4 linked regions of the Homo sapiens genome follow. The protein of the gene in region 4 purifies or fractionates together with the protein of the main gene of each other region. This does not show direct contact. Each region holds a gene or a part of one and is shown on either strand. Other genes may lie near its edges. The genes, in order: IREB2, TOP3B, CIAO3 and CIAO2A.

Region 1 (7,024 bases), about 14 Mb from region 4:
AATAAATTGCATTAAAATAAATACGAATATACTTACTCTGCTTTAGAAAGTAATGCTTCAATTGGAATCTGTCGTAAGGAATTAATTCTAATTCCTTGTTCTTTCTCTTTCTCATTTCTTAGGTGATCCAGATTAATCTGAATTCAATAGTTCCATCTGTTAGTGGTCCAAAAAGACCTCAGGATAGAGTTGCTGTGACAGATATGAAAAGCGATTTCCAGGCTTGCTTAAATGAAAAGGTAGGTTACTTTATTCTTATCCGTGTTTTTCAACCCGCTTTGTGCTAAGTAGTAAAGAACCAACAAGGTGACCCATAAACTCAATTCACTGCTATGTTTTATATATTATGGCACACACCAGCAGCCCCCTTATTTTCCTTCTGTCTAATGTGCAAGTCAGTCATTAGGTAAGCTTGTTCCCAGTTCCATTGTGAGGATCAGAGATTGATTGTGTCTATTTAAATTAAAATTATATACAATTTAAAATTGAGTTTCTTAGTCACAGTAGTCTCATTTTTAAATGCTGAATACATATGGGTCTTGTATTGATGAACAGCATAGATAATTGAATAGTTACATCATCACAGAAACTTTTTTTTTTTTTTTTGAGACAGAGTCTCACTTTGTTGCCCAAGCTGGAGTGCAGTGGCACAATCTCGGCTCACTGCAACCTCCCCCCTCCCGGGCTCAAGCGATTCTCCTGCCTCAGCCCCCAAAGTAGTTGGAATTACAGGAGTCTACCATCATTCCTGGGTAATTTTTGTATTTTTAGTAGAGACAGGGTTTCACCATGTTGGCCAGACTGGTCTTCAACTCCTGACCTCAAGTGATCTGCCCACCTCAGCCTCCCAACAGTGCTGGGATTATAGCCATGAGCCACCGCACCTGGCCTACAGTCATAAAATTTGGTAAATGTGACCGAGTAGCAAGTGGTCTCTGGCTTTTGAGGGTTTGTATTTTCTGTCTGAGAATCACAGTTTTAGTCTTGTCACTTTCTCTATTCTGAGATCTCTAGTACTTGGCTTTCCTTTCAGAGCCTTTCTTTTTATGATTTCTTGACTTTTTGTTCAGAAAGTGTTAAACTTGTACAAAAACAAAATAGTCCACTGAATTGCCATGTACCTGTCAATTAGCTTCAATAATTAGCAACTCATAGCCAATCTTGTTTCAGCTATGCTACACTCACACACATAGGATCCCTTTGGAGGAAATCTTCGGGGTCATTTTAACAGAAAAAAATTTCTGCCATCTCTTGAGAATTACTATAAACAGGGATGATTAAGAACAACAAAGCCAAATGAGATCTGGATTCTGGGTGGTAGGCTGGACTCGCTTAGTAGATAAAAGTTTTGCTTGTGAACATCACCAGACTCCTGTCGTGCCCATGCAGATTTATGCTTCAGCTGAATTACAACTACTGAATGTTATGGGCCTTTAGCATCACTCACAAAAAGGATTTTTAATGTTAAATCATCAAATGTCCGGTATCTGCTATGTTTTCTGCCAGTCTTTTATTCTGTACATACCCAGAATATTTAGTTTATATTTTTGTGGAAATTTGTATAGGTTGGATTTAAAGGCTTCCAAATTGCAGCTGAAAAACAAAAGGATATTGTCTCCATTCATTATGAAGGAAGTGAATATAAGCTGTCTCATGGATCAGTGGTCATTGCTGCAGTTATCAGTTGTACCAATAATTGCAATCCATCTGTCATGCTTGCTGCAGGTGGGTTGTGGTTTATGGCCATACTTTTTCTTTTTCCTTAATTATTGTTGGCTTTTCTGTTATTGTAACTTTGTTTCTTAGATGATGCATGAGTGTCTACATTTGATATTGAGAGACTTTCTAGTATTTTAGTTAGGTCTTAAGGAGCCTGAGTTTGATTTATGTTGTTTTTATTACACCGAAGGTAAATTTACTGTTTACTATAACTTACCTGTCAATTAATTTTAGGTTGTATCTGCTTCTCTTGTTAATTTAGAACTATAGTTAATTAGCAGGTATTTCTTGATTATCTAGAAGTTAACCATAACAGTGTGGTAGATTTCATTAAAAGTTATAAAAGTAGTAAAAGATCATTGTCTTGGCAAGGATTGTAAATGAAATTAATTTGTATGCCCATTGGAACAATTCCTTAGTTGTATAAAACCATGTATAATGTGTTACATTGCTCTTATTGTAATTATGACTTTAAAATGGTTTGCTTTAGAAAAAAGAAGAAAGAGAAAAAATGGTTTTGTTAACATGTACTTATATATGTGCACCTTTTGTTTACTCTGTGTGAATGATGTCAGCCTGTATCTTAATAATTTTCAACATAAAGGCTGTAATTTTAAATTTGTTGTAAATGAAGCAAATCAGTAGAATAAAGTGGACAAAATAATGACAGTAAGTTTATGAATTCATACTTTAATCTGTTAAATAAATTACTTCTCACTTTTTACTTTAATATGGGTGAGAGAGGGAAAGAAACATTGCCATAATAAATCATTGTTTGTTGGCTGTGCAGGTCTTTTGGCTAAAAAGGCTGTTGAAGCTGGTCTGCGTGTTAAACCTTATATAAGAACAAGTTTATCTCCAGGCAGTGGGATGGTTACACATTACCTCAGTTCAAGTGGAGTATTACCATATCTAAGTAAGCTTGGGTAAGTAACAGCTATCGCACTTCATATTGATATTGGTGTTCAGTAGGTACTGAAGCTGCTTGTTTGTGCCTTTCATATACAAAGAGAAGATAGAAAAAATATGCTTTAGTTTTACTTGCTACCTTGCCATTACCATACAATTTTTGATGCCTTATCACTCAGGAAACACTTATTGGGCATATCAAATGAGCAAAGCACCAGGTTGGATACACAGAAGTAGGAGATGTGGTCTTAGCTTCAAGATACTTAGTTGGGAAGACAAGACAAACAAGTACAACCAAATAACAGTTACAGTGTAAGAAACGATACCAAGTATGCACAATTTCTGTGAGTTGTGTAGGTCAGTTCAAAAAAGAAAGAAATCTTATAGTTTGCATTTATTAACTGAAAATTGTCTTAATTTTAGTTTTATGAGGTTATTGGGTCTATAATACATAAGTTTAAATTGTCCCTGAACTTTGGAGAAAGTAACTTATGTTTTTTGGGCTGGGCGCGGTGGCTCACGCCTGTAATCCCAGCACTTGGGGAGGCCGAGGCAGGCAAATCATGAGGCCAGGAGTTTGAGACCAGCCTGGCCAATATGGTGAAACCCCGTCTCCACAAAAAATACCAAAATTAGCCAGGCGTGGTGACGCACACCCATAGTCCCAGCTACTCAGGAGGCTGAGGCAGAAGAATTGCTTTAACCTGGGAAGCGGAGGTTGCAGTGAACCCAGATCGTGCCGCTGCACTCCAGCCTGGGCGACAGAGCGAGACTCCATCTCAAAAAGAAAAAAAAAAAAGTAACCTATGTTTTTTATGTAATCCAAAACAATTGATGCTAGTTGTGTGGGGATTTTTTGGTTTTGAGACAGTGTCTTGCTCTATTGCCCACACTGGAGTGCAGTGGTGCAATCACAGCTCATTGCAGCCTCGACCTCCTAGGCTCAATCAGTCTTCCTACCTCAGCCTCCTGAGTGGCTGGGACCGCAGGTGTGCACCACCACACCCAGCTAATTTTTATGTTTTTAGCAGAGACAGAGTTTCACTGTGTTGGCCAGGCTCGTCTCAAACTTGTTCCCTTAAGTGATCGGCTCGTCTTGGCCCCCGAAAGTGTTGGGATTACAGGCCTGAGCCACCACACCCAGCCTAGTTATATTTTCGGTGTGTATTTTGGAACATATGAGTCATCAATTCCATTGCAAAACTGATAAATTTTAGACTTTTTTGCTTTTAGAATAGCATCTGAAAGTAATTTAGAGGACTGTGCCTGTAATCTTTTGGTTATATTATCTTGGATTTATTGTCAGAGACTCTTCTTGGGTTTAACTGGTTGATAATTGAGAGATTACTCCTATCAGAGTGCCCAATTACAATCAATGCCTCTTTTGGGACCTTTGGTCAGGTTATTATAGCCAGGTCCTCTTTACATTTTAAACTCTTGGATGGAAGTACAGTATCAATTATTTTAAAAGGTCATGTTATATTCCTAGCAAGTAGTATTTGGGGGAATTCTCTTGTACAGTGATAAGTGCTATTAAGGCTCTTCAAAGGTTTGCATTCACCTTTGAGACCAGCCTGAGCATTTTTATTTTTTATTTTACAAAAAATAAAAAAATTAGCTGGGCCTGGTGGCGAGCGCCTGTGGCCCCAGCTACTTAGGAGGCCAAGGAGCAGGATTGCTTGAGCCCAGGAGGTTAAGGCTGCAGTGAGCTGGTTCAAATAGCATGCCTGAGAGTTAGACTTGATTGCTCAGAATCTTCTGAGGTGAATATATTGATGAAGGTTAATCCATGTGTCATGAATAGTCTTTTAAGTAATCTTATTACAGTGATAGAAATACAAGATAAGACTTGTCCTTTCTCTATAAATGTTGTGATGTGCTATTCAGTCACTTTTTTTTTGAAATGCAGATTTGAAATCGTTGGCTATGGATGTTCAATTTGTGTGGGAAATACAGCACCCTTATCAGACGCAGTTTTAAATGCAGTAAAACAGGTAAAATGTGTGGATTGGCAAGACATCTAAATGATTTTCTTAACTATGTTTTGTTACTAAATTATAGAAAATATATATTGATGTGTTTATATTTCTGTAAACTCTGCACCTCTTGGCAATAGTAACCTGTGAATCTTTAAATGATTCAATGAATCATTTGTAGATCCTTGAAATAATTCCTTCATAATACAAGGAATTGATTTAGTTTATTTGCAAGATGCATAGTTCTATATTTAAAAATTAGTAATATGTTTTTTGGTTAATCTCGCCCTCAGACTTTAAGATTGCTTATATATGATTATCCAGATTTGTACCATCTCTAGAATTGAATTTATTTGTTTGTGTGTTTGTGTTTTTTTCAGGGTGATTTGGTTACCTGTGGAATTTTATCTGGAAACAAAAATTTTGAAGGTCGTCTTTGTGATTGTGTTCGTGCCAATTATCTTGCCTCTCCACCCTTAGTGGTAGCTTATGCCATAGCAGGCACAGTGAATATAGATTTCCAGACAGAACCTTTAGGTATCTTTTCCTTTATGTATATGTATACCTACACATACTTTTCCCAATGGAAGTCGTTATATTTTTGAAATGTTTCTTAGACCATCTATTCTTTGAATTATTTCAGGAAGACGTATGATAATGTATAGTTATTAATTTCTGTGTTTATGTGAAGAAAATAAAATGTACAGGTAATTAGTTCTTCCAGCCGCTTAAGCCTGAAGCACCCTGTTGAATCATTTACTTGATTTCCATGATATGTCTTTGAAAAGGTATGAACATTTTCAGAGTTATTTTTTTACTGAGTATCATGTTCAAAAATTTTAACCAGGTACTGACCCCACCGGCAAGAACATTTACCTGCATGATATTTGGCCTAGTCGAGAAGAAGTTCATCGAGTAGAGGAAGAACATGTTATACTATCCATGTTTAAAGCATTAAAAGATAAAATAGAAGTAAGAGTCTTATGTGTTTCTTAAATAGTTTAATCAATTTGCAGTGTTCTTTTATTTCATATATCTTCTGAATAGAATAAAAATTAAAATTACATTATTTTGAATACAGTTTTTAATGTGTAATAGTAAGTTTGTATCTGGAATCTGTAGTTAAAAAGAAAATGGCGGCTGGGCACAGTGGCTCACGCCTGTAATCCCGACACTTTGGGAGGCTGAAGCAGGTTGATCACGTGAGGTCCGGAGCTCAAGACCAGCCTGACCAACATGGAGAAACCGCATCTCTACTAAAAATACAAAACAATTAGCCAGGCTTGGTGGCGCATGCCTGTAATCCCAGCTACTCAGGAGGCTGAGGCAGGAGAATCACTTGAACCTGGGAGGCGGAGGTTGCGGTGATCCGAGATCGCGCCACTGCACTCCAGCCTGGGCAACAAGAGTGCAACTCTGTCTCAAAAAAAAAAAAAAAAGAAAGAAAATGTCTTAGAGGATCAGAATTCATTAGTGTTGATTGGATGATCTGTGCAGCAAACCACCATGGCACACATTTACCTATGTAACAAACCTGCACATCCCGCATATGTACCCCAGAAGTTAAAATAACAGTTGAGGGGGGAAAAGAAAGAATTGATTAGGTGTTCAGAATACATCATTGAACAAAACACAAAATTCTCCTGGGGAGAGGCAAATAAGCTGTAAAGAGAATAATTAGCTAAATTATGCAATATTTATTATTTTTTATTATTTATTTTTTGGTGTTTTTTGGGAGATGGCACCCCACTCTGTCACCCAGGCTGGAGTGCAGTGGCCTGAAGCAGCTCACTGCAGCCTTAACCTCCTGGACTCAAGCAATCCTGCTCCTCAGCCTCCTGAGTAGCTGGGGCCACAGGCGCTCACCATCAGGCCCAGCTAATTTTTTATTTTTTGTAAAATAAAAAATAAAAAATGCTCAGGCTGGTCTCAAACTCCTGGACTCAAGTGATCCGCCCACCTCAGCCTCCCAAAGTGTTGGGTTTACAGGCGTGAGCCACTGTGCCTGGCCTAAGAAATGGTGAGATTTTTGGCTGTAGTTTGAAGGCGTTGATGTGGAACAAATACATTGAAAAAGCAGAGGTTTTTCTCCATTATAACATTCTTAGACATTAACAGCATACCTCATACATGCTTAATCTCTCTGTAGCAACATATAGAAATCTTTCTAAATTCTTTAACTTTTTTGGACTCTGTGAAGTCTTTATGTTCTGTTTATATTGAAACTTGCCCCTTGGAGTGTTCCTGAACATCTGGTATGCTAGAATTTGAGGAGCAAATTTTTAATCATTCTGTCCAAAAACATCATGATTTTTTAGAACACACTGTTTTGGCTGGGCATGGTGGCTAATGCCTATAATCCCAACCCTCAGGGAGGCCAAGGCCCACGTATCGCTTGAGCTCAGGAGTTTAAGACCAGC
Region 2 (7,275 bases), on a different chromosome or scaffold from region 4:
CTCACGCCTGTAATCCCAGCACTTTGGGAAGCCAAGGTGGGCGGATCACGAGGTCAGGAGTTTAAGACCAACCTGGCCAACATGGTGAAACCCCATGTCTACTAAAAATTTAAAAAATTAACTGGGCGTGGTGGCGCACACCTGTAGTCCCAGCTACTCAGGAGGCTGAGGTAGGAGAATTGCTTGAACCCGGGAGGGGAGGTTGCAGTGAGCCGAGGTCGCGCCATTGCATTCCAGCCTGGGTGACAGAGCGAGACTCCGTCTCAAAGAAAAAAAAAAGACATGTTGAGTTCAGGTCATAGGACAGGCTGCCAAGAGCTGTTTCTCCATGTACCCTGCAAATGACTTGGGCTTCTGTGACGTTTTAAGCTCCACCCACTTCTGGGGACAGCAGAGTGACAGAAGTCCCCCTCCCAGACAGGGGAGAAGGATGGCCTCAGCACACAGCCAGTCAATTTCCTGTTCTTCAGCGCAGGTTTCATTGCCCTTTTATTCAAACTTCAAAAAGTAATCTTGGCCAGGCGCGGTGGCTCACGCCTGTAATCCCAGCACTTTGGGAGGCCAAGGCAGGTGGATCACAAGGTCAAGAAATCAAGACCATCCTGGCCAACATGGTGAAACCCATCTCTACTAAAAATAAAAAAATATTTAAAAATTTAAAAAATTAGCTGGGCTTGGTGGTGTGTGCCTGTAGTCCCAGCTACTCGGGAGGCTGAGGCAGGAGGATCGCTTGAACCCAGGGGGTGGAGGTTGCAGTGAGCCAAGATCGTGTCACTGCACTCCAGCCTGGCGACAGAGCAAGACTCCTCTCAAAAAAAAAAAAGTAATCTTTAAGGCTGTGCACGGTAGCTCATGCCCATAAATCCCAGAACTTTGGGCAACAGAGTGAGACCCCGTCAAAAAAAAAAAAAGTGGCTTCTGGAACTAGGTTGCTCTGCCACTTCCATCATTGTGTCCTGCTGGTTCTTTTTTTTTTTTTTTTTTTTTTTTGAGATGGAGTTTTGCTTTTGTTGCCCAGGCTGGAATGCAATGGCATGATCTTGGCTCACTGCAACCTCCGCCTCCTGGGTTCAAGCGATTCTCCTGCCTCAGCCTCCCGAGTAGCTGGAACTACAGATGTGCGCCACCATGCCCACCTAATTTTTTGTAGTTTTAGTAGAGACGGGGTTTCTCCATGTTGGTCAGGCTGGTCTCTAACTCCCGACCTCAGGTGATCCGCCCGCCTCAGCCTCCCAAAGTGCTGGGATCACAGGCGTGAGCCACCGCGCCTGGCCTATGTGTCCTGCTTCTTTATGTGTAAAATAAGGATAATAATAATATCTAATTCCTAGTGTTGTAATGAGGATTGTGTCAGTAACAGAACAGTGCCTAGAACAGAGTAAGTAAGCACTGCATGATGTTAACTATTAATAGTATTATCAAAATCATGGACCAGCCTATGCCGAACCAGAGAGAAGAGAGGTCCAGGAGCCCTCAGTTATCCCATCCACCATAACCAGGCACCTGCCCAGTAAGTGAGGAGGGTAAGGAAGAGGAGAAAAGTCAAGACCATGGTGGAAACACCCCAGGGCTCTGCTTCCTGAAGTCCCATGGCGGTGTCTGGGCACCTGAGTTTCTCTCATGGCCTCTGCACACTCCTTAGAGGAGGCCTCTGCAGGCAAGTCTGCTGCTACTCTTTAGGGGAGTCAGTTTCTCCCCAGCCATGGGGAAAGAAGAACGGCCCCTCTCGCTGAGTCGATCCTAGGCCACCATCTCCCTGGTCAGAGTGGAGCTGGGGTTGGGGGGAGTCCCAATAGGGAGACACCTCCAAGTTGAAGGGTTCCTCTGAATCTGGGTCATTTGTCAACCTAAGGGTCAGTCAGAAAGCCTGACCCAAAGCTCTGGCAGAGGGTCAGCTGCAGGGCTCTCCGGGAAGAAAGCACAAGGCAACTGCAGTTTCTCTGCTCTGACCAAGAACACTTCCCGACGCCCTGGCCTTCAGAGCTGACCACTCAGCGCCTCCTGCTGGCCCAGGCCTCAGGTCCTTCCTAGGGCTCCATACAATGAACTCTGGAACTGGATTGATGGAATGAGCTGAGGGCCTCTGGGTTTCTCTTTCAGCCAACTGGTAGCACCCAACAGAGCCAATCTTAGCCCTGGCTGGTATGTGGAGAACACACTGCAGGGCGGCAAGGTGGAGACCTGGAGGGAGAGGAGGAGCTCGGATCAGGGTGGTGGCAGGGAGGCAGGGAGACTTGAGGGGATCTCCGATATACAGTCTTCGATTTAGGACAATTTCCACCTACAGGATTTTTCAACTACAAAACCAGTATGCATTCTGCACGCTTCTTGACTCATGATGGGGCTACATCTGGGTAAGCCCATAGTAAGTTGAAAATACCATAAGTCAAAAACGTACTTTCGAGTCACAATATTTTCAACTTAAGATGGGTTTATGTGGATGTAGTTCCATCTGAAGTTGAGGAGCATCTGTATTGTAAAGACAGTAATGGCAGGATTTGTGGGTGGTCCAGGATGCTCCCAGGCTCTGTCCCTGAGCAACCAGGAAGATGGAGTTGCCATTTTGGAGACGAAGAACCTACCAAGGTGTGGGTTTGGAATCAGGAGTTCTGCTTTGAAAGTGAAGTCTCACCGTGACTCATAATTTGTGACATTTCCAAACCTTAATTTGCCTATAGAACTTTTCTTTTTCCAGAGCCTCTATCCAGACTACTTATTATTTATCAAAATAAATTAGATAAATAAATAACTTAATTTTAGAATTCATCTTCCAGATATACTTTACACAGATCATTCCAATAAAGGCAGGTTGGGGCCCGGGACAGTGGCTCACCCCTGTAATCCCAGCACTTTGGGAGGCCGAGGCAGGAGGATCACTTGAGGCCAGGAGTTTGAGACCAATCTGGGCAACATAGTGAGACCCTCCCCCTAGACCCCATCTCTACCAAAAAAAAAAAAATTAATTGGCTGGGCTTGGTGGCTGGCACCTGTGGTCCCAGCTACTGGGGAGGCTGAGGTGAGAGCATCGCCTGACGCCAGGAGATCGAGGCTGCAGTGAGCTGTGATCTCGCTACTGCGCTCCAGCCTGGGTGACAGAGTGAAACCCTGTCTTTAAAAAAAAAAAAAAAAAAACAGCAGGTTGGGAAAATCTACAAGGAACAAGGGCAATGTGTGTATGTTATTTAAAATAAGATCATAAAACGTATTTTAAACCTTCCATAATCCTAATGCTCTAACAAATAAATTAGTTGGCCGAGCGTGAAGAGTCACACCTGTAATCCCAGCATTTTGGGAGGCCGAGGGAGGCGGACCACCTAAGGTCAGGAGTTCAAGACTAGCCTGGTTAACACGGTGAAACCCCCGTCTCTACTAAAAATATAGAAATCTTTGGGAGGCCAAGGCGGGCGGATCACGAGGTCAGGAGATCGAGACCATCCTGGCTAACACGGTGAAGCCCCGTCTCTACTAAAAAAATACAAAAAATTAGCCCGCGTGGTGGCAAGCGCCTATAGTCCCAGCTACTTGGGAGGCTGAGGCGAGATCATCGCTTGAACCCGGGAGGCGGAGGTTGCAGTGAGCCGAGATTGCGCCACTGCACTTCAGCCTGGGCAACAGAGTGAGACTCCGCCTCAAAAAAAAAAAAAAAAATATATATATATATGTATACACACACATATATATACATACACATATAAATTAGCTGGGCGTGGTGGCGCACGCCTGTAATCCCAGCTATTTAGGAGGCTGAGGCAGGCGAATTGCTTGAACCTGGGAGGCGGAGGTTTCAGTGAGCCGAGATCACACCACTGCACTCCAGCCTGGGCGACAAGAGTAAAACTCTGTCTCAAAATAAATAAATAAATAAATAAATAAATAACTTAATTTTAGAATTCATCTTCCAAATATATTTTACACAGATCATTCATTCATTCCACAGATTTTTTTACAGCATCGAAAAGAAGCCTGCTATACACACATCGGTACATTTTTATTATTTTAATTATTAACAGCATAAATGTTTTCATGCCAGTTTTCATAATCATTGTAATGATAATTGTCATGATTGTCTCTCCGTGGCGGGGAAGAATCTGGGTGCAGGGCTTGGGGATCCCTGCGGTCCGCGGCGTGCAAGTGCCACTCCCTGGGGTGCTCCCGGAATCCGCGAGCCACGGAACCTAAGAACGCCGACCCGCCGGAGCCGGAGGGCAGACGCTGGCACACCGGACGCGGGGACGCCAGAAGCGGCTGGACCCGGAAATAGGGGTTGTCGGTAGCCGCCCCGGGAACAAGGACCGGAGCTGGATCCGCGGTGCGGCTGTGGGTGAGCGGCGGGCTGCGGGACCCTCGCCCGGCGGCTCAGAAAGGCGGGAAGCGCACGCATTTTTCTGGCTTGTTTCCTGAACGTTGGCCGGCGGAGGACCCGCGAGCTCGGGAGAGCGCCCGGGCCGGGCTCTGCATTCTTGTTGCCTCTTCCCTGGCGGGGGTGATACTCTCCCGCGGGGCTTGCTGTGGGGGTTCAGGGAGGTGGAGATGGGCCCGCCATGTGCCTGCAGGGAGCAGGCGCTGTGGTTAATACTTTTCTTCTTCGAACCCTCCCACAGCTCTTTAGGGTGAGATCTGCTGTACCAGTCTCACAGGTAGGGAAACTGAGGCTCAGGGAAGCTGTGCAGCCACCGGGGCCCAGATCGGTGCGGTACACACCCAGGCAGCTTCCACTCGCCGCCCCCTAGGCCCTGGCTGGGTTTTGAGGGCACCCAGGTTCTCTGACCTGTTATCTGTAAATGAAGTAGGGTACTTTTGTGAACAAATTAGCTGGAATCCAGGGGCAATAATTTCTCGCAGAAGTGAAAGGTAAGATGTTCCTAGTCTTGCCTTTTTATCTTCTCACCTTTTGAAACAGGACCTGAGAGGCCAGCCTAACTTGGGCTTGATGGCCAGCCAGTCCTGGGATTCTTTTGCCAAGGTCACCTGACACTAGTGTGACTTGTTCTGAACCTCCATTTACTCACAGTTTTAAAAAATTACAACACCTGCCTTATGGGGTTGCTGGCGAGATTGAATAGTGTTGATAGCTATGGTGTGCCTACTACAAAGGAGGAGCTTAAGAAATGGTTGTTTCCCTCTTTTCCTGATTCTAGAAGCATTTGGTAAAGTTACTGAGGTGGTAAATCCTAGGAATTTTAATGCTATTCAGACCACTGCTAGGCCTACTCCCAGGCCACATCTGCTTGTTTCTTTTTTTGTTTGTTTTGTTGCAGGCAGAGTCTCACTCTGTCACCCAGGCTGGAGTGCAGTGGCGCGATCTCAGCTCACTGCAACCTCCGCCCCCGGGTTCAAGTGATTCTCCTGCCTCAGCCTCCTGAGTAGCTGGGATTACAGGCATGCGCCACCACGCCCAGCTAATTTTTGTATTTTTAGTAGAGACCAGGCTTCACCATGTTGGCCAGGCTGGTCTTGAACTGCTGACCTCGGGTGATCCACCTGCCTCAGCCTCGCAAAGTATTTGCTCACTGTCTATTTACCGTGAGAATGCACAAAGCAAAACCCGTGTTCTCCTGCTGCTTACTTACTTTCTAGGAGCTGTAAGACAAGAGCTGAATAAGTAGATGGAAGCTGTACCAAGTGTAGTGATGAGTGCTACAAGGAAGCAAAGCTGGGCTGCTGTTCCATCAGAGTGCTCACAGAGGCAGGACAGGATCAGGCTTGGGGCACGGGTTCTAGAACAACCAAGTCCAGCCACTGGAGCTCTGGTCTCTCTGACCCCACAGTCCCAGTCTAGGCCAATAAAATGGCAGCACCTATTAGCATCCCTGCCTAGGATGCTGGCAGGACTGCCTGGTCCCTGGTGTGTCCTCATTATGTCATACATAATTGCTGACTACTCTGTGGCATAGACATGAGAAAATCTGAGGAAACATTTTAGGACAAAATTTCCTACTTTGGAAGAGATGGGAAACTCAGACCCTCACAGAACAATGCCCCTCTGCTGCGAGTTTTCCCTTTTGGCCTCTGGCTTCCCAGGGTGAGAGAAGGGGAGTCCCTAAATCTCTTTTAAACCTCACTTCTGGGCCTCTGATTTTGGTAGAATCAAAACTTCCCCAGAACGGAGAGCAGAGGCCAGTCATAATCACCTTGGTTGTTCATTCATTCCCTCAGCAGGCATTTAGTGCATGCTGGGTGCCAGAAATATGGCAATGAACCTGACAATTGTGGGAGAGACAGACTGCTGACGCCAGATGCAGTCTTCAGGAGGGGAGGGGCAGGGGTCAGAGCAAGTAGACTAAGGGGGAAAAGTGGCCTAGGCCGAAGCCTGCTGGCGCACAGGGAGGAAAGGTGGGTGCGCAGCAGAGCCTTGGGAGATGCAGCTGGAGCTGTCATGGGCCAGAGAGCTCATCTGCAGACAGTGTCGTCATTCCACAAGGCCTCGGCTCTTTCACTGTGGGATGGTTGTACATTTAAGGGGAACATCCACTTACTTATTTTGAGGAAAAAAGCAAATTGTCATTTTATTTGGGACAGCTTTCTGGTCAAGATTACTGATTTCACTGTAGTCCTGTGATCTCTTAAGTGGGGAACAAGGTTGACAGCCCAAGGCCGACCTTGGACCTCTTCCCCTGCACAGCATGATGAGCAGCAGAAGCCCCTTTAGTGAGGGAGTTCCTTTGGCATCCTTTCTGAACAATGCCCTTTACAACCCTCCTTTATTTTTCTGGTTTTATTGTAAAGTCCCTTGTCTTAGTTCTTGTCCCTCAGTCACCTGTGTCCAGGCGCTAAATGTAAAAGGTGCAAAAGGGAATGTGGTGAGGAGGCACCCCCAGCCCTGACCTCCAGGCCCTAACACCCACTCCAGGTGATTGCTTGGACTGTTTGTTTTGCGTTCCATCCAGACATATCGCCTCTTCATAATCAAGTGCACACGTGTGCACACATATGTGTGATCACAGATGGCAGTGCTCTCTACACACCGTTACATGCCCAGCTTTCTTAGCATGATTTATTTCAGTGATCTGATCCACGTTAGTATGTACCAAGCAGATGCTTTCCTTTGTAATGCTGCCAGGTGCTCTACTGTAGAGAATGCCATGCTTTTTTTTTTTTTTTTTTTTTTTGGAGATGGAGTCTCACTCTGTCGCCCAGGCTGGAGTGCAGTGGCGCAATCTCGGCTCACTGCAAGCTCCGCTTCCCGGGTTCACACCATTCTCCTGCCTCAGCCTCCCGAGTAGCTGGGACTACAGGCGCCTGCCACCATGCCCAGCTAATTTTTAGTATTTTTAG
Region 3 (7,024 bases), on a different chromosome or scaffold from region 4:
TCGCCTTACTCCTCTGGCTGTATTCCGGGCCACTGCAGCACCCCTGGCCCTGCTCAAACCATTCCTGCCTTTGCAGGAGAAGTTGGGGGAGCTCGAGCTGGGTGCGTTTTGCATGTAAGAAAAGTTGCTGAGGCATGTCCCGGAGGCCCCCGACTGGAACACCTTGTTCCTGCATCTGTTTGGCGAGTCTGACGGTTGTTTCTGCCCCGCCCACCGGAGGCCAGGCTCCCAGGCTTCCTCCCTCTGCTCTCCTCTTCCTGTGCCTTCGTCCTTTCCTCCTTTGTCCTCAGCTTTCCCGCCTCCTCCTTTCAGAGCCCACCTTCGGCATTTTCCTGCCCTACAGCCCTGTGAGTGTGCACCGGGGCCAGCACCCCGTCCAGGGCCCCATGGGTGAGTGGGGTGGCTGCTGCTTTGCTGAGATACCAGTGGCAAGCCTTAGTCCTGTGATTCGGATGCACTAACCAAGTGGTACCAAGAAGCAGACTTGACGGCATTATGAAACTGTAGAGCGTGCGTGTGCATTTTTGTAATACATACCTAATTTTTAAAAATTCAGCGGCACACAAGCCCAGCCAGCAGCCATGTTGGTTGTCGGTTATGAGCTGGACTCCACTATCCTCTGTCTCCATGTCCTCGTGCAGAGGGGGCCCCTGTGCACCGGGTTCTTCTCCCTTGTAGGACGGCGGGACCCGGAGGCTGGAGAAGGCCAAGGTCTCGCTAAACGACTGCCTGGCGTGCAGCGGCTGCATCACCTCCGCAGAGACCGTGCTTATCACCCAGCAGAGCCACGAGGAGCTGAAGAAGGTTCTAGATGCTAACAAGGTAAGCAGTGGTCGGCCTGGTGACTCTGCTTTAACCTGAAATCCATCCCAGCAGCCGACAACGCGTTTTGCCAAGGGCAGCTCGTGTGGTGCCGACGTCCGTCGTGCGGGTGGCGCCTGCCTTTTTGAGGCTTGGAATCTTGGTGATTTGTCAGTGGGCTCCAGTGGTGAACGTGTCAGGCCCCAAACTTCAGGTTCTAAATATACATCAAAATGACACCCCTACTGGGCGCGGGGGCTCACGCCTGTCATACCAGCACTTTGGGAGGCTGAGCCGGGTGGATCACCTGAGGTCAGGAGTTCGAGACCACCGTGGCCAACATGGTGAAACCCCGTCTCTACTAAAAATACAAGAATTAGCCAGGTGTGGTGGCACATGCCTGTAATCCAAGCTACTAGAGAGGCTGAGGCAGGAGAATCGCTTGAACCCAGGAGACAGAGGTTGCAGTGAGCCGAGATTGCGCCATTACACACCAGCCTGGTGATAGAGTGAGACTCCATCAAAAAAAAACGATACCCTTGGCCAGGCACGGTGGTTCACGCCTGTAATCCCATCTACCCAGGAGGCTGAACCTGGGAGGCGGAGGTTGCATGCAGTGAGCTCCGATCGCACCACTGCACTCCAGCCTGGGCAACAGAGTGAGACTCTGTGTTAAAAAAAAAAAAAAGACTCTTGATGGAGCTGGCCTGCCCTCTCCACAGCTGACAGCATCTCACCGTGCGGCTCTGGCCACCAGGAATCAGCATAAGGCCAGCAGAGTAAGCAGCGTCTTCCCCTTGCTTTGCAGATGGCGGCACCCAGTCAGCAGAGGCTGGTTGTAGTTTCGGTCTCACCACAGTCTAGAGCATCGCTGGCTGCACGGTTTCAGCTGAATCCTACAGATACTGCCAGGAAATTAACCTCATTCTTTAAAAAAATAGGTAGGCTTTGAACCTGGGGTAACACTGCCGCTCCAAATCAAGGGGGCGTCTGAGTAAGCCCAGGCCCCTCGCGCCTCTGAGTCACTGACACGCTACCCAGCCCTGAACTTCAGCGCTACAGAAACTTTATTCCCTCTGTGACCTCAGCCTGAAGTTTTGATTTGACATTTGAGAGCAGGGCCTTCTCACAGAACACGTCTGCATTCTGACTGTGCACTTTCTCTAAGCTGGGGCTGACCAACTCCTTGTACTTTTTAGCTGATAATATTAAGGCACTCTCTCCGGGGCTCTGTTGGGTTCAGCCAAGGTCAGCTTCTGCTGACTTTGGTTATGTGCCTGGAGCTGGGCTTGGGGAGGATCTGGGTGTCTTGAGAGCCCCCAGCTAACTAGGCTCCAGTGCCTGGTGTCTCACTGGGAATGAAGGGGCTGGACCTCATGGTTACTGTGTGCCTTTCACAGGTAACCACCATGTCCAGTCCCTTCATTCCCAGTGAGGCAGGCCTGTGCGCCTTGTAACCAGCAGACTGCCTGTCATCCAGCTGTGTCCCAGGTCCCTCACACTGGAAACCTGGTGACACTGGCAGGTGCCCCATGGCTCCTGTCTGACCCATATCCAGTTGGTGCCTGAGCAGTGCTCTGGCACTGGGAGCCTGACCTGGTGTCCCAGGGAAAACCTGGCCTGGGGCAGCCCATGGTTCTCCAGATGGAAGGTGTGGATTTCGTCCCCACCAGAATAGGAAGCAAGTTCAAAGATTTTTACTTAGAGATGATGATGACGGGCAAGTGGGGCACAGCGAGTCCTCCGACCACGGGTTACGCGAGGGAGGAATGACAAGTCAGGCAGAGAGAGAGGGACCCACACGCGGGTGCCTCTGCTGGGTCCAGGGCACGATCAGGCAGGTTTACTGAGCAGTTCTAATGGCTGGGCTTGGAGCTGGCTGGCGTGTTCCAGGAGTCCTGCTGTGTGTGAGGGGTGGCCACTATGGTAGGTCTGCACAGTCAGGGTCCGAGGGGCCAGTCCAGCAGGCTGCGTCCAGCTGTGCCCTAGGGAGGGTCACCGGGAGCAGCGCACGTGGCAATTCCCTGGACCAGCCACGCTGAAGAGCTGGGAGGGTGGAGGACTGAGCTGCTGGGTGGCTGCCTCTGGGGTGGGAAACCAAGGCCTGGGTTCACAGGGGATGCCGAGGCAACGTGGCTTTAGGAGGTCCCCACAGTGGGGCTGGGGCTTTGGCGCAACGTGGCTTTAGGAGGTCCCCACGGTGGGGCCGGGGCTTTGGCACGGCAAGCAGGTGCGACACACGTGCCCTGGCAGCACCATGGTGGTCCACACGCCGGCGTGTGCTCGTGTGGGCGTCCCGCATGGGGTTAACCAGGCACCCACCTTCACCTTCCAGGGGTGCACTTCGTCTTCGACACCGCCTTCTCAAGGCACTTCAGCCTCCTGGAGAGCCAGCGAGAGTTTGTGCGGCGATTCCGAGGACAGGCCGACTGCAGACAGGCGCTGCCCCTGCTGGCCTCTGCCTGCCCAGGTGTGCTCATGGTGCGGGTGGTGGGAGAGTCAAGTTCAAGTGCAGTTGAAACGTGAGGTGATATGGACACAAATGACAAGGCGGGGGCATGGGGGGTGGAGACGCAAGCAGGTTTTGCGGGACGGGTTGGAAATGTTGGCACAAATGGCCTTTTCTGGAGAAGAGGCTGCCCTCCCGTGGGAGCCACGCGCAGTCACCTCAGGTCCCTAGGCGGTGTCGCCTGCACGCCGAGCTCCGCGTGGTGGTGGGGAGAACAGGAATGAGCACTCTTTAATGTCATCATGATCTCCTGTATGAGCGGGCCCGCCCCCAGAATGTCGTGCTGCTGCCTGTGGGTGCGGGGGCCGCCGTGCGCCCCCGCCAGCCCCGTGTGCCCCCTGTCACCTCAGGCTGGATCTGCTATGCCGAGAAGACTCACGGCAGCTTCATCCTCCCCCACATCAGCACCGCCCGGTCCCCGCAGCAGGTCATGGGCTCCCTGGTCAAGGACTTCTTCGCCCAGCAGCAGGTAACGGCGTTGGGCCAGCCCCAGACTCAGGCTGGGGAGCGGCCAGAAGTGACTTTGCTGGCCTCTTGCCATGAGGCTGCAGGAAACAGAGTCCTCGCTGTGCTGTGCGGCCTTCCCCAGCACACCTCCACCCTTGTTCCCTCCTGGTTCAGGCCCTTCCTCTTCTGCAGCAGAGGGCTTCGTTCTGATCCAGAGGTGCTCACTGCTCACCCAGAGGCAGCCAGGCCTGAGGCTGAGGGAGCAGGAGGCCCTGGGCAGTCCGGGCCTGGAGCCCACCCCTCCGGCCACCAGGTCCACGAGGATGCCCAGCACGACCCCCACCTGAGGCCCAGCGGGATAGAAGCCTGAAGACACTCAGCCAGCAGGGGGCGGGAGAGGGCGAGGGCGGCCCCGGTGGTGCCTGGGCCTCGAGCGCCCATGTCCCCTGCGGCACCTCTTGCCTGACTGCACGCGGATTTTCACCCGGGGCTGGAGCTGGTTGGTTCCCCCGTGACATCCGTTTCCCCGGCTGCTGTGCAGTGAGACGGCCCGAGCCGTGGGAAGGCCACTTCTCCTCCGCTGGACTTGGCTGTTAGGGAGCGCAGGCACACTGGGAATGGGTCAGTGTCATTTTCTGTCACAGCCAGGGCCCGTCCTGTCCAGGGACACATCCGCAGAGCCGGCAGGAGGCTTGCTGGGAAATGGAGTGAGGCTCACTGTCCCTCGGGGTCCGGCCTGGCTGCAGGATGGCTGAGTTCCAGGTCCCGTCTCAGCCACCTTACTGCTGGGATTGGGGAGACAAGTGTTTGTTTCTCCTTGTAGCACTTGACCCCTGACAAGATCTACCACGTCACAGTGATGCCCTGCTATGACAAAAAGCTGGAAGCCTCCAGACCCGACTTTTTCAACCAGGAGCACCAGACACGGGATGTGGACTGTGTCCTCACAACAGGTGCGGTCACGCCGTGCGGCCCTGAGCCCTCAAGCCTCCTGGTCTGATTCCTGAGCCCTGGGCACAGGTGGCGACTGCCCAGGATCCTGCCTGTGGGGGCCCTGGCTGGAGTGTGGGGGCTCGCATGCGTGCACGTACCTTCGTCTCTCCCCTTGGAGCCAGGTGGGCCCATTTGCAGCTGGCCTGTCTTGGGGACCTGCAGCCAGGTGGCGCTCAGTAATACCTCCTTGTTGGCTCTGAAATGAGTCTTTGGAGGTGGGCAGAGATTCTCGAATGCAGCCTCTTCAGCTCCCATGAGTCACCCCATTCCTGAGTCGAGCAGCCCCACAGTCTCCCAAATGTGAGGCAGAAAAGCAAACTGTGGCCGGGCATGGTGGCTCACGCCTGTAATCCCAGCACTTTGGGAGGCAGAGGTGGGTGGATCACGAGGTCAGGAGTTCAAGACCAGCCTGGCCGAGATGATGAAACCCCATGTCTACTAAAAATACGAAAATTAGCCGGGAGTAGTGGTGGTGCTCCTGTAATCCCAGCTACTCGGGAGGCTGAGGCAGGAGAGTCACTTGATCCCGGGGGGCAGAGGTCGTAGTGAGCCGAGATCGTACCATTGCACTCCAGCCTGGGCGGCAGAGTGAGACTCCGTCTCAAAAAAAAAAGAAAAGCAGACTGCCTAAGAGGATGGACAGATGGACACTGGGTGAGCAGAGTGGCCTGGCCGCTGGCACACCTCCCTGGGCAGGACCAGGCAGCCTCCAGAGGGGCTTCAGGAGTGACCGGGCCTGGCCTCCCCACCACGGGCTAGGGTGGACATTTGGGGCCTTCTGGGGCCAAAGTGCAGACTGCTGGGGATGCAGGTGGCTTGGATGTTCTCTGACTTTGTTGCTGGGATCTCCGCTAAAGAGTGTCTGCGCTGTGGCTTCTTTGCAGGAGAAGTTTTCAGGTTGCTGGAGGAAGAGGGCGTCTCCCTCCCCGACCTGGAACCAGCCCCTCTGGACAGCCTGTACGTATGTCTGCCACCAAGAACTGTTATTTTAGCTTCTAACGCTGCCTCTGAGGATAGCATCCCCCTGCTCTGGGCTTGCCTCCCCGCAGCCCATCTTGGCGTCCACAGAAGTGGCTGGATAGCCAGGCGCAGTAGCTCACGCCTGTCACCCCAGCACTTTGGGAGGCCAAGGTGGGCAGATCACCTGAGGTCAGGAGTTCGAGACCAGCTCGGCCAACATGGTGAAACCTCATCTCTACTAAAAATACAAAATTTAGCCAGACATGGTGGTAATCCATGCCAGGCCCTGTAATCCCAGCTACTTGGGAGGTTGAGGCATGAGAATTGCTTGAACCCAGGAGGCGGAGCTTGCAGTGAGCCAAGATCACGCCACTGCACTCCAGCCTGGGCGACAGAGCAAGACTCCGTCTCAAAAAAAAAAACAAGAAGTGGCTGGGCCCCTGTGATGGCTGGTGACACAGGAGCTGTTCCTCTGTGTCTGTGACTTGTCTCCCACCTGGAAATGCAAACGCTCATGTGTGAGGGACAGAGGCCCTGCTCGGGAGGTTGGCAGGCAGCAGCCCCAGCTGTGCTGAGGCCCCTCCCTCCTTGCCAGGTGCAGCGGTGCCTCTGCAGAGGAGCCCACCAGCCATCGGGGAGGGGGCTCGGGGGGCTACCTGGAGCACGTGTTCCGGCACGCGGCCCGAGAGCTCTTTGGAATCCATGTGGCTGAGGTTACCTACAAACCCCTGAGGTCAGTGGGATGGGCCAGATCTCTGGGCAGAGCGGCCACACAGCCCCCAGCCTTCCTCGGGCTGCTGCCTCCCCTGGGGTCCTCCCACAGAGGTGGGCTGGGTGGAGGGCAGCCTGCAGGGTTTGGAGGGGACCCTGGGGCCAGGCAGGGCCCTCCTGGCGGGCTCAGGGTGTGAAGGCACCTAAGCACTCCAGGCCTCAGTCGGCCCATTGTGGGGGATGGTGACCCTGAGCCCGAGAGGCCAGCATGGGCAAAGGTGATGGGTGCCTGGCGCAGGCACGCGACCACATCCCAGGAGGGAGGGCCAGGGCCTCACAGACATCCCTGGGGAGGGAGGCCTGTTTCACAGACAGCCCGAGGCTGGAGGTGAGGTCCCCTGCTGGACTCAAGGAAGTGAGCCTTCCACCCTCTCTCTCCGTTCTTGTCCTTCCCTCTGCCCAGGAGAGAGGGAGAGAGCCCTGGGAGGTACCCGGTCATCCCCTGAAGCCCAGCAGGCCTCCCCTTCCAGGCAGGCAGGAGCCTGGTGGGTGTGCCATGTAGACAAACCCCGCCTGTGCCCCCCAGGAACAAAGACTTCCAGG
Region 4 (7,024 bases):
CCTCAAAGTTGCCCTTATCCTTGTCATTGTTCTAGCTTCCTTATAAAGTCATTGTCCTTTTCATGTCCCTCCCTTCCCAGCTAAGGCCCTAGGAAGACATTTTCAGTTCCTACTTGCTTCCCCTTTTGCAAGCTGGCTTCAGCGCACGCACTCTCTACTGAAACTGCTTTCTTACAGCTGGCTGGGGTGACAAATGAAAGACCTGTTTTAGCTCTCATGAGCCTGAATTTTTCTGCAGCATTTAATGTTATTAACCATCCCTCTCTTCCCTCCTCTAGTTCTTTTTGCTTTTGTTTCTCATTCTGATCCCTAAGTTAGGTGCTTCGCATGGATCTGTTGGGTCTCTTTTTTCTTTATACCACTGATTCTCATACTGGGTTGTACCTAAGAACAACCCGAGAAATTTTTAAAACTCAAAGGCCAGCAAACCAATTAAATCAGAGTCTCTGGAATTGGGGCCCAGGCATCAGGTTTTTTTGTTTGTTTGTTTTTGTTTTTGAGACGGAGTTTTTGCTCTGTTGCCCAGGTTGGAATGCAATGGCGGGATCTCGGCTCACTGCAACCTCTGCCTTCTGGTTTCAAGTGATTCTCCTGCCTCAGTCTCCTAAGTAGCTGGGATTACAGGCGCCCGGCACCACGCCTGGGTAATTTTTGTATTTTTAGTAGAGACGAGGTTTTACCATGTTCACCAGGCTGGTCTCGAACTCTTGACCTCAGGCGATCCACCCGCCTCAGCCTCCCAAAGTGCTAGGATTATAGGCCTGAACCACGCGCCCGGCCTTGTTGTTTGTTTTGAAACATTCTTGGTAATTCCAATGTTCAGCCAAGGTTCTACTTATTCTTTGTGAATCCTGTGGGTTTGACAACCACTCTAGCTTTGATGCTGTTTTAAACTCTATGCTACAGTTTACCACTTGCTAGAAAACTCCATTGGATAACCCCTTAAGCACCTCAAAATCATTCTGTGTGAAATTGAACTCATTTGCTCTATGCCCCACCCAAATTTCTTCCTCGTTCTGTTTCTTTTAGTTCTGCCAGTGTTGTCCTAGATACTATTTTAGGCCTGGTGTTTTTAGCTGGTATCATTGGTTCTGCTTTTTAGTCTGAGTCTAGCAGCTGATGATGAGTTACCAGCTGACAGCACAGTGTTGTCCATGTCACTTGTCTCAAACCTCTTGAGGACTTGCTATTGCCGGTAGCTGGCTGTAAAAGACACTTGATGGTCAGACCCAAATCTCATACTCTAAAACACCTTTCACTTATGCCTGCTTCCAGGCAAACTAGGGTTCTTCTTCTTTACTTTACTTTCCTTCACTTTTTTTTTTTTTTTGAGACAGGGTCTCGCTTTGTTGCCCAGCCTAGAGTGCGGTGACACGATCTCCGCTCTCAACCTCTGCCTCCTGGGCTCAAGCGATCCTCCTGAGTGGCTGGGACCACAGGCCTGCACCACTACACCCGGCTAATTTTTGTGTGTATTTTTTGTAGAGACGGGGGTCTCATTATGTTGCTGAGGCTGGTCTCGAACTTCTGAGCTCAAGTGATCCTCCCGCCTTTGCCTCTCAAAGTGGTTGGTTTACAGGTGTGAGCCACCATGCCCAGCTACTTTCCTTCACTTTAAATGTCAAATATTGAAATGTTACCTATTTTTCAAGGCTTGATTCAGATTCCGCTCCTATAAAGCCTGATAACCACATTCTTTCAAGCTGAAAGTTATTTCTTCCTCTTGAGCTTCCATGACACTGTTTCCATTCTTATTATATTTTCTCTGCAATGTCCGATTGGAGAAACTGGATATGGTCTTATAATAATCCAAGAAAACAGTTTTCTCAAGAGGAAACCAGTAGTGAAAATTTCTGTCAGAAACCTGGGAGTTGCTGTACTATTTGCTTAAACGTAAGAGAAGTCAGTGCTTAAATTAGGCCTGGCAAAATCATCTTTATTTAGAATAGTCATGTTTTAATAGAATATCTTATCTCTGATGATTCTTTAGATTTGATTAGAACTATCCGGGACCCAGAAAAGCCCAATACTTTAGAAGAACTGGAAGTGGTCTCGGAAAGTTGTGTGGAAGTTCAGGAGATAAATGAAGAAGAATATCTGGTTATTATCAGGTTCACGCCAACAGTACCTCATTGCTCTTTGGCGACTCTTATTGGTAAGTTTTTCTGTACATACATGTATATTTATATAAATTCTAAGTTATTCTTGCTGATATTGACCCATAATAACAATTTGCATCATTGTTGAAAAACCATACAGTGTATGTATTACACTTTATGGTTTACAGAGTATGTTCGTGTATTCATCTTCTGTAGTCCTCACAATTAGCTTGTTGAGTTAAAATATTATTATCTTCATTTTGCAGATGAGGAACCTGAAGCTCAGAGAGTTTAAGTGACTTGCACAGAATCAGGTAGCCAGGAAATGGTGAAACTAAGGCTCATACCCAGGTCTCCTGACTCCACTTCTCCTTTAGTTATGTCAGGCTGCCCCTCCCAGGTATATATGCCCACAATTAATGGAGAGTGCATGTGGGCCAGTGCTTTTCCTCAGTTCTGGAGGTTGGAGTGGGTGGTGTCAGACTAGCATTGCTTCCATCACCATCTCCTTTCAGTGACTCTTCTGGTTTCTACATAGTATGGGTAGAAGTCCTGGTAGGAGGTTGGATTCCCAGTATTTTGGATTTGTTAGCAGGTACAATAAATGTATTTGAACATATGCTTTGTTATAAAGGGATTTTATTTCAAACCAAATGTTCATGAGTAGGGGATTGATTAAATAATCATTGATGGTGAATATAAACAGTGGAATACTATGCAGCTATAAAAAAGAATGAAGAAGCTCTGCATGTACTGATATGGAGAGATCTCTATGACATACTGTTAAGAAATAAAAGCAAGTATCATTTTGCTATCATTTGTGTAAAAAAAGCAAAAACATACATTTGTATTTGATTGCATATGCCTGAATAATATTAATACATAAATGAATAGCTATAAGGGTGTTAGCGGGTAATAGTGGTGGTGGGAGCTGGGCAGATGGGGGAAAGGGTGGGAGGGAGACTTTATACCTTTTTATGTTTTTACATTTTCAAACCATGGGACTATCTCACCTATTAAAAAGCAACAAGTTTATAAAAAAGATTGAAAAGGTCGCTATTTCGTTATTATTTCCACTATTGTGATTTCTGTCTTTTCTCACTGGTTGACCTGGGTTCCCTCTGCTGGTGGTTTCCACCATATAGGCCACATCTTGAGGGACTGGAGGTCTGTGAATCCATAGGTATTATTGTGGTTATTAAAATCCCATTGGTGACCGGGCGTGGTGGCTCACACCTGTAATCCCAGCACTTTGGGAGGCCAAGGTGGGTAGATCACTTGAGGTCAGGAGTTTGAGACAAGCCTGACCAACATGGTGAAACCCCATCTCCACTAAAAAAAATACAAAATTAGGCCGGGCGCGGTGGCTTACGCCTGTAATCCCAGCACTTTAGGTGGCCGAGGCGGGCAGATCACGAGGTCAGGAGATGGAGACCATCCTGGGTAACATGGTGAAACCCTGTCTCTACTAAAACTATAAAAAATTAGCCAGGCATGGTGACGGGTGCCTGTAGTCCCAGCTACTCAGGAGGCTGAGGCAGGAGAATGGCGTGAACCCGGGAAGCGGAGTTTGCAGTGAGCCGAGATTGCACCACTGCACTCCAGCCTGGGCATCAGAGCGAGACTCTTATCTCCCAAAAAAAAAAAAAAAAAAAAAAGCAAAATTAGCAAGGCATGGTGGCACACACCTGTAATCCCAGCTACTTGAGAGGCTGAGGCAGGAGAATTACTTGAACCTGGGAGGCAGAGGTTGCAGTGAGCTGAGATCATGCCATTGCACACCAACCTGGGCAACAAGAGCAAAAACTTCATCTCAAAAAAAAAAAATTCCCATTGGCATGGCGGCTCACACCTGTAATCCCAGCACTTTGGGAGGCCAAGGCAGTGGATCACTTGAGGTCAGAAGTTCAAGACCAGCCTGGCCAACATGGTGAAACCCCATCTCTACTAAAAATACAAAAATTAGCTGGGCATGGTGGCACGCACCTGTAATCCCGGCTACTCGGGAGGCTGAGGCAGGAGAATCGCTTGAACATGGGAGGTGGAGGTTGCAGTGAGCTGAGATTGCGCCACTGCACTCCAGCCTAAGCAACAGAGTAAGACTCTGTCTCAAAAAAAAAAAAAAAAATCCCATTGCTAGAAAAAGCATTACTGAATGCTGAATGCATGGTTATTTTTGGTCATTGGACAATTTGTGAACGAACAGATACTGAAAGTACTGCTGTGGGTGTTGTGGAGGGGGTGTCTTAAAATATTTTGACATATAAGAAAGAGTTCTTAAATGGAGAGTTCAAGAACCTATAGCAAATTTATTTATTTATTTATTTTTTGAGCTGGAGTTTAACTCTTGTCACCCAGGCTGGAGCGCAATGGTGCAATCTTGGCTTACTGCAACCTCCGCCTGCCAGGTTCAAGCGATTCTCTTGCCTCAGCCTCCCAAGTAGCTGCAATTACAGGCGCCCGCCACCATGCCTGGCTAATTTTTTTTGTATTTTTAGTAGAGATGGGGTTTCACTATGTTGGCCAGGCTGGTCTCGAACTTCCAATATCAGGTGATCTGCCCACCTCGGCCTCCCAAAGTGCTGGGATTACAGGTGTGAGCCACCACTCCCAGCCAGCAAATTCATTTTTAAAATTAACATTTATTTAAATTATATGAGTAACATGTTTATTGGCAGTAATTTTGATACCCCACAAAAACATAAAGAAAAAAACCAGCTATTATGAAAGAATGTCACTGGGTGCAGTGGCTCACTCTTGTAATCCCAGCACTTTGGGAGGCCGAGGCGGGCAGATCATGAGGTCAGGAGTTTGAGACCAGCCTGGCCAACGTAGTGAAACCCTGTCTCTACCAAAAATGCAAAAAATTAGCTGGGCGTGGTGGCGGGCGCCTGTAATCCCAGCTACGTGGGAGGCTGAGGCAGGAGAATCGCTTGAACCCGGGAGGCGGAGGTTGCAGTGAGCGAAGGTCACGCCACTGCACTCCAGCCCAGGCTACAGTGCGAGACTCCGTCTCAAAAAAAAAAAAGAATATATGCTCTGGGCTAAAATTCCAGGTCTATTGGCTGTACCGTATTGTGGGCTTCGGCAAGTTACTTAACCTTTCCAAGACCCAGTTTCCTTATCTGTAAAACAGGAATAATAAGGATATCTATAGAGTCGTAAGAGTTAAGTAATAGCATGAAATACATGAATTATTTTTCTCATTAAATATTTCTTTTTTTAAATTTTTTTTGTTGTTGAGACAGGGTCTCACTCTGTCACCCAGGCTGGAATGCAATGACACGATCTCGGCTCACTGCAGGCAGCCTCCACCTCCCGGGCTCAAGTGATCCTCCCACCTCAGTCTCCTGAAAAGTTAGAACTTCAGGCAGGTGCCACTATGCCTGGCTAGTTTTGCCATGTTGCCCAGGCTGGTCTCAAATTCCTGGGCTCATGCCTCAGCCTCCCCAAGTGCTGGGATTACAGGCATGAGCCACCATACCTGGCCATCATTAAATATTCTTTAATTATATAGTTATAGGTTACATGCTAATCATATTGGTACATCAGAAGTTTTGTAACCATTTGGACTACTTCTAGCCTTTTGCAATTATAAATAATACTGTGATGAGCAACTTTATTTTATTTTATTTTATTTTATTTTATTTTATTTTATTTTTTGAGACAGAGTCTCACTTTATTGGCCAGGCTGGAGTGTAGTGGCCACTGGAGCTTCCACCTCCCAGGTTCAAGTGATTCTCCGCTTCAGCCTCCCGAGTAGCTAGGATTACAGGCATCCTCCACCAAGCCCAGCTAATTTTTGTATTTTTAGTAGAGACGGGGTTTCACCATGTTGGCCAGGCTGGTCTCGAACTTGTGACCTCAAGTGATCTGCCCTCTTTGGCCTACCAAAGTGCTGGGATTACAGGTGTGAGCCACCGCGCCTGACCGAACAACTTTATATATAAATATTTTTATTTATTTATTTTTTGAGACGGAGTTTCACTCTTGTTGCCCAGGCTGGAGTGCAATGGCATGATCTTGGTTCACCACAACCTCCACCTCCCAGGTTCAAGCGATTCTCCTGCCTCAGCCTCCCAAGCAGCTGGGATTACAGACATGCACCACCACACCTGGCTAATTTTGTATTTTTAATAGAGATGTGGTTTCTCTATGTTGGTCAGGCTGGTCTCTAACTCCCAACCTCAGGTGATCCGCCTGCCTTGGCCTCCCAAAGTGCTGGAATTAGAGGGGTGAGCCTCCGTGCCTGGCCTTATATAAATATTTTTATATATCTCATTATTGCATCAGGATAAATTCCTATACGTGGAATAATTGGGTTAGATTATGTAAGTATTTTGAAGCCTCATGGTATATATTGGTAAATCCCTATCTGGAAGTTTATACTGTTTGACGCAGGAGTTAAGGAACTAATTTTATAGAAGAAAATATTCGCCAGACGTGGTGGCCCACACCTGTAATTGTAACACTTTGGGAGGCCGAGGCGAGAGGATCACTGGAGCCTAGGAGTTTGAAACCAGCAATCTCTTAAAAAAGAAAAAAAACATGAAAAAGCTTGAATAAGTTCAAATTGCATCATGATTGCAGTTATAGAAAAATGTGTACGTGGACAAATATCAGGAGAGTGCATGAAATAAAAACTGTTCTGTAAGGGTGCTAACATTAGATTATAGTTGATATTTCAGATCTGTACACTTCCTGTAGAAAGTTTTGTCTTAGCCCTTTCGTTATGCATTTCAGCTAAGACCATTGGCTTTTTATTTTTTATTTTTATTTTATTTTATTTTATTTTTTTTTGAGACAGAGTCTTGCTCTGTTGCCCAGGTTGGAAAGCAGTGGTGCTGTCTTGGCTTACTGCAACCTCTGCCTCCTGGGTTCAAGCGATTCTCGTGCCTCGGCCTCCAAGTAGCTGGGATCATAGG

What was found.
Region 1: the proteins of CIAO2A (region 4) and IREB2 purify together in Homo sapiens (affinity purification with mass spectrometry; 3 studies listed by BioGRID and IntAct, with this or other methods). This does not show direct contact.
Region 2: the proteins of CIAO2A (region 4) and TOP3B purify together in Homo sapiens (affinity purification with mass spectrometry; 2 studies listed by BioGRID and IntAct, with this or other methods). This does not show direct contact.
Region 3: the proteins of CIAO2A (region 4) and CIAO3 purify together in Homo sapiens (affinity purification with mass spectrometry; 4 studies listed by BioGRID and IntAct, with this or other methods). This does not show direct contact.

Annotation. Positions count from the first base shown.
Region 1 is NC_000015.10:78,483,196-78,490,219, forward strand, and holds part of IREB2 (iron-responsive element-binding protein 2), read left to right. Parts: intron 1-122; coding exon 123-239; intron 240-1,565; coding exon 1,566-1,725; intron 1,726-2,509; coding exon 2,510-2,645; intron 2,646-4,537; coding exon 4,538-4,622; intron 4,623-4,984; coding exon 4,985-5,141; intron 5,142-5,451; coding exon 5,452-5,576; intron 5,577-7,024. UniProt on the Homo sapiens protein: RNA-binding protein that binds to iron-responsive elements (IRES), which are stem-loop structures found in the 5'-UTR of ferritin, and delta aminolevulinic acid synthase mRNAs, and in the 3'-UTR of transferrin receptor mRNA.
Region 2 is NC_000022.11:21,979,776-21,987,050, reverse strand, and holds the start of TOP3B (DNA topoisomerase 3-beta-1), read left to right. Parts: upstream 1-4,263; 5' UTR 4,264-4,321; exon of another isoform or gene 4,322-4,637; intron 4,638-7,275. UniProt on the Homo sapiens protein: Releases the supercoiling and torsional tension of DNA introduced during the DNA replication and transcription by transiently cleaving and rejoining one strand of the DNA duplex.
Region 3 is NC_000016.10:730,984-738,007, reverse strand, and holds part of CIAO3 (cytosolic iron-sulfur assembly component 3), read left to right. Parts: intron 1-678; coding exon 679-822; intron 823-1,609; coding exon 1,610-1,742; intron 1,743-3,136; coding exon 3,137-3,271; intron 3,272-3,660; coding exon 3,661-3,779; intron 3,780-4,580; coding exon 4,581-4,710; intron 4,711-5,634; coding exon 5,635-5,707; intron 5,708-6,305; coding exon 6,306-6,443; intron 6,444-7,007; coding exon 7,008-7,024.
Region 4 is NC_000015.10:64,083,818-64,090,841, reverse strand, and holds part of CIAO2A (cytosolic iron-sulfur assembly component 2A), read left to right. Parts: intron 1-526; exon of another isoform or gene 527-644; intron 645-1,990; coding exon 1,991-2,155; intron 2,156-7,024. UniProt on the Homo sapiens protein: Component of the cytosolic iron-sulfur protein assembly (CIA) complex, a multiprotein complex that mediates the incorporation of iron-sulfur cluster into extramitochondrial Fe/S proteins.